Regions from separate parts of the Homo sapiens genome. Here region 2 is linked to region 1. Evidence: fine-mapped expression QTL. A gene starts in region 1. The other region holds a variant in brackets. All regions are shown on one strand. Distances are from middle to middle. Region 1 holds the start of CARS1 (cysteinyl-tRNA synthetase 1). Region 2 overlaps CARS1 (cysteinyl-tRNA synthetase 1).

The links. PIP is the estimated chance that this variant, and not a neighbour inherited with it, causes the effect.
Region 2: its variant is fine-mapped to the expression of CARS1 in tibial nerve (GTEx, PIP 0.94).

What each region holds. Positions count from the first base shown.
Region 1 is chr11:3,055,462-3,059,868 of GRCh38, forward strand. It overlaps CARS1 (cysteinyl-tRNA synthetase 1), which reads right to left and starts at 1,962. Exons shown (of 23, transcript NM_001014437.3): 1 at 1,882-1,962. The coding sequence starts at 1,906. LOC124902615 (a long non-coding RNA gene) reads left to right here and starts at 3,163. Exons shown (of 2, transcript XR_007062555.1): 1 at 3,163-3,557. RefSeq lists an enhancer at 1,616-2,148.
Region 2 is chr11:3,004,033-3,008,389 of GRCh38, forward strand. CARS1 (cysteinyl-tRNA synthetase 1) reads right to left here. Exons shown (of 23, transcript NM_001014437.3): 19 at 2,847-2,927; 20 at 1,334-1,401. Among named protein-coding and RNA genes, the nearest start is that of NAP1L4, 14 kb to the left of the region's middle. The variant T/C (reference allele first, on the strand shown) is at 1,672.

The DNA.
Region 1 (4,407 bases):
GTTCTCATCTTTGAGAGTGTGTGTGTGATGGGAGGAGGCGATAGTAAAGGCAGGTGGGCCATGCCCTGGGGCAGAAGAACACTGGCTGGAGATGCTGTGCGCAGGCTGAGGACTGGGCAATCTGCCTGCTGCCCTGACAGCCCGGAGAGGGCAATCCCAACCTATATGGCAAGCTCCAAAAAGAAGGCAATTCTTACAAGGCTCTGAAAACCTAAAATTCTAAAGCTATTTTTAAAAACAAGATACAAAACACTACTAATACGTCATTTACGTTCACAAATGAACAAAAACACATTTTTAGTTTGAAAACAAACAGGCCCTAACTTTCAGCACAGACACAGCACTTAATTGAGTGCCAGGCACTGTTCTACGTCCTTCCCATCTATTAATTCATTTACACTCCATGCTCCAAGGTAGGAGCCATTACGCATGGTTTGCTGTGGGGCGGGAGGCAGAGTTGGAACCCTGGCCCTTCCAGGGTGGTTCCAGAGTTGGGGCTGTTAACTATGATGCTGTTTTACAGGAATCTGGGTGACTTCTGAGGGCCGCTTGGCTCTGGGACGGGTGGAGATGGTGCTGGAATCCAGGCACACAGGTAGGGTGGTAGGCGGCGTGCCTGGAAGGTGACCACCTCCTGCCACTTGGCACAAGAGTGTAGCCCTGTCATCTGGGTGTCCCCATGCCGCCAGATTACTCGGGTTGTCATAACTACCTATCTATAACCCAATAAACCCTCAGGGGCAAAGGGCACCACCAGATGCTAAGGAAATCTTGGTACGATCTAAACTGAGGGTGGGGGCTGGAGGTGTCTTACAAGAACTTGCATCTAATTTTTGCCAGCCAAAAGAATTAAAAACTAGATACTGAGAATGTTTCCTTTGGAAAGGCTGCTCCAGACTGTTAGGAATCTGGGCTTTCTGATTCAGTCTCTTGCCTTTCCAGCACCTAAAATCTTGCTGGAGGGACAGTGAGAGAAGAACCCACTGGTCTCTCAAGGTCTACCCGCTGGTGACATGAGTGACTGGGGGAGCTGACACAGCTGTGTCCCTGGGGAACCTCCCGGGTTGGCAATAAAATGGGGCAGTAATGCTCTGACAATCAGCTTGCAGTGGACTGCCTGCGGAACTGGAGATGAAAGCCTTCGTAAAGCCCCAAGCCCTTTTACTGTGTGTACGCGTACCCCTGGCGTCCTCTGCCCCATTTCCCTAAATACCAACCTCAGGTGCCCTCCGCCCACCTCCCGGAAGCTGCCAGGTCTGGGCAGAAAACCAAAACAACCCTTGGGCCTTTGTCTCCCCCCTAAAGGCCAGCTGGGGCAAGAGGGAGCGAGGGCCCGCCCAGGCACCGGCTGGGGAAAGGCTGTTTGATGTAGGGCCACCTCCCGGGGTGAGGATGCAAGGGGACCTCGGCAGGAACCAAGTGAGGAAACTGAGGCTGGGTGGTCTGGGCAGCGCCCCGCTCGGGCTCGGGTCCCCGCGGGGTCTGTGCTCCAGCCACGGGTCTGGCAGACCCTCACGCAGGAGTCCCAGGGGTCCCAGTGGCCGTCCCTCGGAGCCGGGCACCCGTTGTCCTTCGGATCCTAGGACGTGCCACCCCTCGAACCTCAGGACCCGCCGTCCCTCAGACCCCGGGCACTGACACCCCTCAGACCCCGAGCACCCCCGCCCCTCGGACCCAAGGACGTGCCGTCCCTCAGACCCCGCGCACTGACACCCCTCAGACCTCGGGCACTGCCGCCCCTCAGACCACGGACACAGCTGCCCCTCAGAACCCATGCACCCGGGCCCCTCAGACATAAGGACTCGCTGCCCTTCGAGCCGAGCACCCAGCGCCCAGTCAGGCCCCCAGCCGCCCTCAGCCTGGCCCGGCCGCGCCGCTCACCCTGCTGCCCGGAGGAATCTGCCATGGCTGGGAATCCCGGACCCGCAGCTGCGGCTACAGACACTTCCTAGAATCTGATGCAACCGCCGCCCCGGAAGTCGCGCCCCACGCCGGGCCCGTCTTCCGGGACACGCCCGGTCGCTAGGCAACTACCAGGGGCTCCGGATGTCGCCGGCCCGGAGCATGCTGGGAGCTGTAGTTCAACCCAATGGCGACCCGCGCTCCGGAGCATCGCGCGGCCAAGCGTTCAGTGGCCGTGCTGGGAGTAGTCAGCCCAGCCGCGGGGAGACAAGCACTAAAGACTGAGCGTCCTGTAATAGGTGTTTAAGTCATGATTGCGCTAAGCGCCGTGGGGACCAGGCCCAGCCTGGAGGTCAGAGGCGGCCTCGGGACAGGGTGTGCTGGCGAGACGGGATGGTTCCCAGGAGGCCGACCTGGAGCAGGGCCTGGGGATGGGCGGGAAGAGCGCTCCAGGCCTAGGGACCGCCCTGCCAATGACCCTGCGGAAAGCAAGCCACTATGAAGTGTTGCGTGAACAGGCTTCTCCATCTCCTTCTCAGACCCCATTCTGGAGCCATCCCCAACCCCCTTAGGGCTCCTGCCTTCTGTGTGCATGATGTCACCTCCCAAGGATATCCCACCCAAGGTTCGTGCACCCATCCAAAATGAGAGGAAATGCTATTTAAGAAACAGAATTTTAATATGTCAAGAAAAATTATTAGCCAGGATTAGTGGCTCATGCCTGTAATCCCAGCACCTTGAAAGGACAAGGCAGGAGGATCATTTGAGTCCAGGAGTTTGAAGCTGCAGTGAGCTACGACTGTGCCACTGCATTCCAGCCTAGGCGACAGAGTGAGACCCTTTCTCAAAAAATAAAAAGTAAAAAATCTTCTAGTTACTTTTTGGAACCTCATGTCTAATTTCATAATAAATTCTAAGGCCGGGCACGGTGGCTCACACCTGTAATCCCAGCACTTTGGGAGGCCGAGGTGGGCGGATTATGAGGGCAAGAGATCGAGACCATCCTGGCCAACATGGTGAAACCCTGTCTCTGCTAAAAATGCAAAAATTAGCTGGACATGGTGGCGCTTGCCTGTAGTCCCAGCTACTCAGGAGGCTGAGGCAGGAGAATCGCTTGAACCAGGGAGGTGGAGGTTGCAATGAGCCGAGATTGCGCCATTGCACTCCAGCCTGGCAACAGAGTGAGACTCCGTCTCAAATAAATAAATAAATAAATAAATAAATAAAATAATAAATAAATAAATTCTAAATTCTACTGGTGGCTGGAAAAAAAAAAGAAGAAAGAGTTTGTTTACATTTCTGCAAAGATCCTGTAGCATGTGCTGTAACTTGCCCAGGATGTGGGAGGCTCTGTGAGACCCCAACTAATCCCAAAGGAGGGACCAAGTCCAGGACTTAGGGGACGAAGTTCTGGCCAGGTCCTACCATGACTCTCACAGTGCCTGTTTCTCACTCATCACTCTAGGACCATGAGTCACCCAAGCCCAGCTCGGCCACATGCCTTCCTGGGAGAAGGAACCGGAGGCGCCCAGGAGAGTCAGAAGCCTCTTAGAGATAAACATTCGGCTAAGGCTTGCCCTGCCCTTCCTTTCTTGCACTAAGAAAGCCTCCTGACATCAGGTCAGGCAAGCCAGAGTTTGGCTGTAAGACCTGGGGTGAGTTTAACTTCTCTGAGCTTCCAGATGTCTTGTTTTTAAATCTGCAAAGTGGGGCCGGGCACTGTGGCTCACGCCTGTAATCCCAGCACTTTGGGAGACCAAGGCGGCCAGGTCATTTGAGGTCAGGAGTGCAAAACCAGCCTGGCCAACATAGTGAAACTTCATCTCTACTGGGAAAAAAAAAAAGGGTCTGCAGAGCGGAACTGGGAAATGATCACCTGCTCAGGTGGCCGAGCTGTGTCTAAGAGTGCTGCAGTGTCTAGCAGCAGTGGGTCCCGCCTCCCCAGTCCTGCTGCGTCCCAGCCCTACCACCAGGGCAAGGACACTCTCTGAACCTCAGCATCCCCCTGGTGTTGTAGTTCTTTGGGACAGCACATTGGGTTACAGGTTGTTATGGGTTGCATTGTGTCTCTCCCAAAAGATGTGGAAATCCTATAACCACCAGGACCTGTGAATGTGACCTTATTTGGAAATAGGGTCTTTGCAGATGATAAAGTCATAAGATGAGGTCATTAGGGGGGACGTTAATCCAGTATAACTGATATCCTTGTAAAAAGGGAAAATTTCAGCTGGGCATGGTGGCTCACACCTGTAATCCCAGCTCTCTGGGAGGCTGAAGAGGGAGGATGGCTTGAGCCCCAGAGTTTCAGGTTGCAGTGAGCTATGATTGTGCCACTGCATGCCAGCCTGGGTGCAGAGTGAGACCCTGTCTCTAAAATAAATAAATGAATAAATAAATACACATATATAAATTAATTTAAAAAAATTTTTTGAGACGGAGTTTCACTCTTGTTGCCCAGGCTAGAATGCAATGGTGCCATCTTGGCTCACCGCAACCTCAGTGTCC
Region 2 (4,357 bases), 51 kb before region 1:
CCAGGGAGTGCAGCAAGCCAGGGCGTCTGCACAGCCAGCACCAGGCCACCTCACAGCACAGCACGGCAGGCGAGACCCAAGGCTAGGTGAGTGACTGTGATGGAATGGGGAGGGGCCCTGATGAGGCAGTCACACCAGCCAACCTCACAGGGCAAGCCCAGCTCTTCCCAACCTGCCAACCAGGATGGACCTGCAGACCACTCACCACTGTCTAGAGCTTTCCCCAGAGTTCCAGTTCGTTATTCCTCCAAAGCACTGCAAACTCCAGCCACCCACACTTGGATCTGGCATGAGCTCTCCCCTCGTGCCTTGGGCCAGTGCAGGGCTAGGCATAGATGCCTTCCCTGACCTTGTACATCCCATCTATCAATCAACCACCCTGTCGATTCTCCTTCCTCAGTTCCTCCCAGAGCCTCCTTCCTGAGAGCTGTGGCATCCAAACTCGCCCTCCACGGTGGTCTCCTGCTTTAAGCCTCTTGGGGACCCACCTGCTGGTGGCAACAGCCCCCATGGCCCACCTCCCATGGTGTGCACTGGGGGCCCAGGTGCCTCTCATCCTGCTGCCTGCATCCCAGGGTACCCCATGCGCTGTGCCCAGAGATTCTGACATTGCGTTTTTGTTCCTGTTCTTCTGTCCTATTGGGCACCGAGGAACTTGGGCCATCCCTGATCCTGGGGGCGTTGTGGGGTGCAGGTGGGGAGTATGCTGGGAATAGGAGGTGGAGATGCATCAGTGACACGCGCCACTCAGGTGAGGGCACGGTGGGACTGGGATCTTAACATGTCAGCTTCGGGCCAGGCGTGGTGGCTCAAGCCTGTAATCCCAGCACTTTGGGAGGCCAAGGTGGGTGGATCACGAGGTCAGGAGATTGAGACCAGCCTGACCAACATGGTGAAACCCCATCTCTACTAAAAAAATACAAAAATTAGCTGGGCACAGTGGTGCGTGCCTGTAGTCCCAGCTACTTGGGAGGCTGAGGCAGGAGAATCCCTTGAACCAGGGAAGTGGAGGTTGCAGTGAGCCAAGATCGTGCCACTGCACTCCAGTCTGAGCAACAGAGTGAGACTCCGTCTCAAAAAAAAAAAAAAAAAAAAAAGTCAGCTTCACAGTTTGCCAAAAGTGACTGGTTTTCACTTAAACTGAGGGAATAATCTTTTTAAAAGAGGTCCTTCATTAGAAGATACTAGTTAATTTTTCTTTCTGACATTTATAAATACTGGGATTTTAATAAAAGTGTAAACATCAATGCTTAAAAAGTAAACTATGTAATAATCGCAATGGTTTTTACATTTTCAACAAATATCACGCTTAAGTCATTTTCACTTTACTCACCCGTCTCTTTTCTTCTCTCTCTTTTAATAAGGTGTTTCTGTCTACCAGTTTCACCACTGTGGGCAGTCCTGCAAAATAAACTGCGTGTGAGAAGAGTCTGGGCTCTGTGGGCCGTCCCCACTGCGGGGCCAGCCCTGCCCTGCCCTGCCCTGCCCAGACCATGCGGTGCTGCCCAGTCAGAGCGAGGGCCCACAGGAGAAAAACAAACAAAAACCTCCATAGCAGCAGTGAAGCACAGGAGAACATTTTGGTTTGTGTGTGTGTGATTTTTTTTTTTTTTTTTTTGAGACAGAGTCTTGCTCTGTCATCCAGGCTGGAGTGCAGTGGCACGATCTCAG[T/C]TCACTGCAACCTTTGCCTATCGGGTTCAAGCAATTCTCGTGTCTCAGCTGCCCAAGGAGCCCACACCCAGCTAATGTTTTGTATTTTAGTGGAGACGGGGTTTCACCATGTTGCCTAGGCTGGTCTCGAACTCCTGAGCTCAGGTAATCCACCCACCTCAGCCTCCCAAAGTGCTAGGATACAGGTATGAGCCACCACACCTGGCGAGAACATTTTGTAACGAGAAGGTAGGAAGGTCTTGCCAGCCAGGAGTAGGAAAATAGGACATGACATCTGAGATTTAAAATTACCAGGGGCAGAGTGGAAGAGTGGAATTGGAGGGTTCGTAACACAAAGAAATGATAAATGCTTGAGGTGATGGACATCTCAGTTACCTAGATTTGATCATAGTACCTCATACGCATGTATCCAAATATCACACATAGCCCATAAATATGTACAACTATTATGTATCCATAAAAACTGAAACTAAGGCTGGGCATGTGGCTCATGCCACTTTAGGAGGCCGAGGTGGGCAGATTACTTGAGGTCAGGAGTTCGACACTAGCCTGGTCAACACAGTGAAACCCCGTCTCTACTAAAGATACAAAAATTAGCCGAGCGTGGTGATGGGCGTCTGTAATCCCAGCTACTCGGGAGGCTGAGGCAGGAGAATCGCTTGAACCCGGGAGGCAGAGGTTGCAATGAGCCGAGATCGCGCCACTGTACTCCGGCCTGGGCGACAGAGCGAAACTCTGTCTCAATAAACAAATAAATAAAAATTGAAAATAAAAAACAAAAAAATTAACTTTCTGTGGAACAAAAAGACCTCCACGAAGTGGGAGAACAAGCATGCAATCTGTTGACAGTGTACAGGATACAGGCTGGTTCCTCAGCTGAGAGCTTCAAAGGCGGTAGCAACAGGGGCAGCGGGCAGCCAGGCCCCTAGGGGAGATGATGCGCAGGGGAGGTGACACCACCACACGCAGCAGTGGGAAGGAGCTACGGGGTGCTCCCCTGCCCCTGCCAGGCTGGCCAGCGTGGGAATGGCGCCGGGGGACCCATGGGGCTGCCACTTTGGGATTCTGCATCAGCAATCATGAAGCATGAGCCTCAGCCCAGCCCCGGGAGCTCTCCTTGTGACACCTCTCCAAGCTCCTGGTAACTTTGTAGCAAACAGCAAGGGCTCACCCACCTTCGTGGTCTTCAAACCGCACCCCAAGCTCGGGCAGGATGTTGTCCCGCAGGGCATCGCTGAGCTGCAGAATCTCAGGGACTGTAGGAGAAGCAGAGCAGTTCCCTCAGACATGGAGGAGCCAGGGCCCACACAACCAGTGCCTCCTCCAGTGCTGGGGAAGGAGGGGCCGTGGCCCACAGAACAAGTGCCTCCTCCAGTGCTCAGGAGGGAGGGGCCCCGGCCCACAGAACGAGTACCTCCTCCAGTGCTTGGGAGGGAGGGCCCAGCAGCTTGATTGGCTGCAGAAGCCCAGAGACTAGTGTCTCCCGTAAGCCCAGGGGCTGTTCTGGGGGTGCAGGGCAGAGCCAGGAGGAAGCATAGCACACTGGCCGCCGGAAGCAGTTCTTCCAGGAAAGGGACACAAGTTGGGCCGACAGCAGGGGTGGGAGGGTCAGGACAGGCCTGGGGGTCCCTTCGGGTGCTAACACTCTTCATCTGAGGCAGCCTCTCTGTTGGTGCCAGAATCAGCTTTCTTACAGAAGGACCATTTACACTCAAGCCCCAAGGACTTGGTTCCCAAATGCACACGGGACTGCGATGGGGGTCCTGACCGGCACCCAGGAGAGCTGAGTCCCAGGACCACCAAGGAGCTCGAGCTCTGTGAGAATCAGCCCTCCCAGGGCTGAAGCGCACGCAGCTGTAAAGGCGGGGCTGAGCGGTGGGGGTGGACCGCAGGTTGCTTCCCAAGACTGTGCTCACCTCTGCCTCTGACTGGGGACCTGACCCAGCTGGGAGGGTGAAAGGAGGCATGACAGGGAGGGCGACTGTGACCTCCATCACATGGGGAGGGAGCTTCGCTTGGAAACCCATGTGTCTGTGGCTGACTTCAGAGCGCAGCAGTGCAGACTTGCCCGGCATCCCACGGTTCTCCTAGTGGGCTCCTCACGCAGTCTCTAGCAGGCGCCCCCTCTGTGTCTCTGCTCTGCCCGAGTTTTCCCGTTCCCAGCCCACGCACAACGCCCAGGTAGAGAACAGGACATAAGAAGTTTTGGGTGTTACAGGGTAAATGGGATGCCAACCTATCTCAGAAAGACTCCAGAGTATCAGGTGATGTGACAGCATCTCCTAGACTACATCAACAGGACAGATGCTTGCTGCTCTCCAAGTGACAACTTTCTGCTCTGAAATCTGACCTTGGGTTTGCTGGAATCACCACACCCTTTAGTTTTCTTCTGGCCCCTCAGCTTGCTGCGCCCAACTGTGCTAGGCGGGCAGGTGCCCTGCCCCCCAGCCTGCTGGGACCCCCACCATCCCACCCCATCCTCCTGCCTGCCCTGCCTTTGGGCAGCACTGACCATGCACATGCTGCCATTCTCGTCTGTCCTTTTCCTGCTGTGTCCTCATAACTGAGACCCCTAGAGCTCCTTGCTGGGCACCCCACACCTTCATTCACTGCTAGATAAAATATTCACATATCCGGGCAGGCACGGTGGCTCATGACTGTAATCCCAGCACTTTTGGAGGCTGAG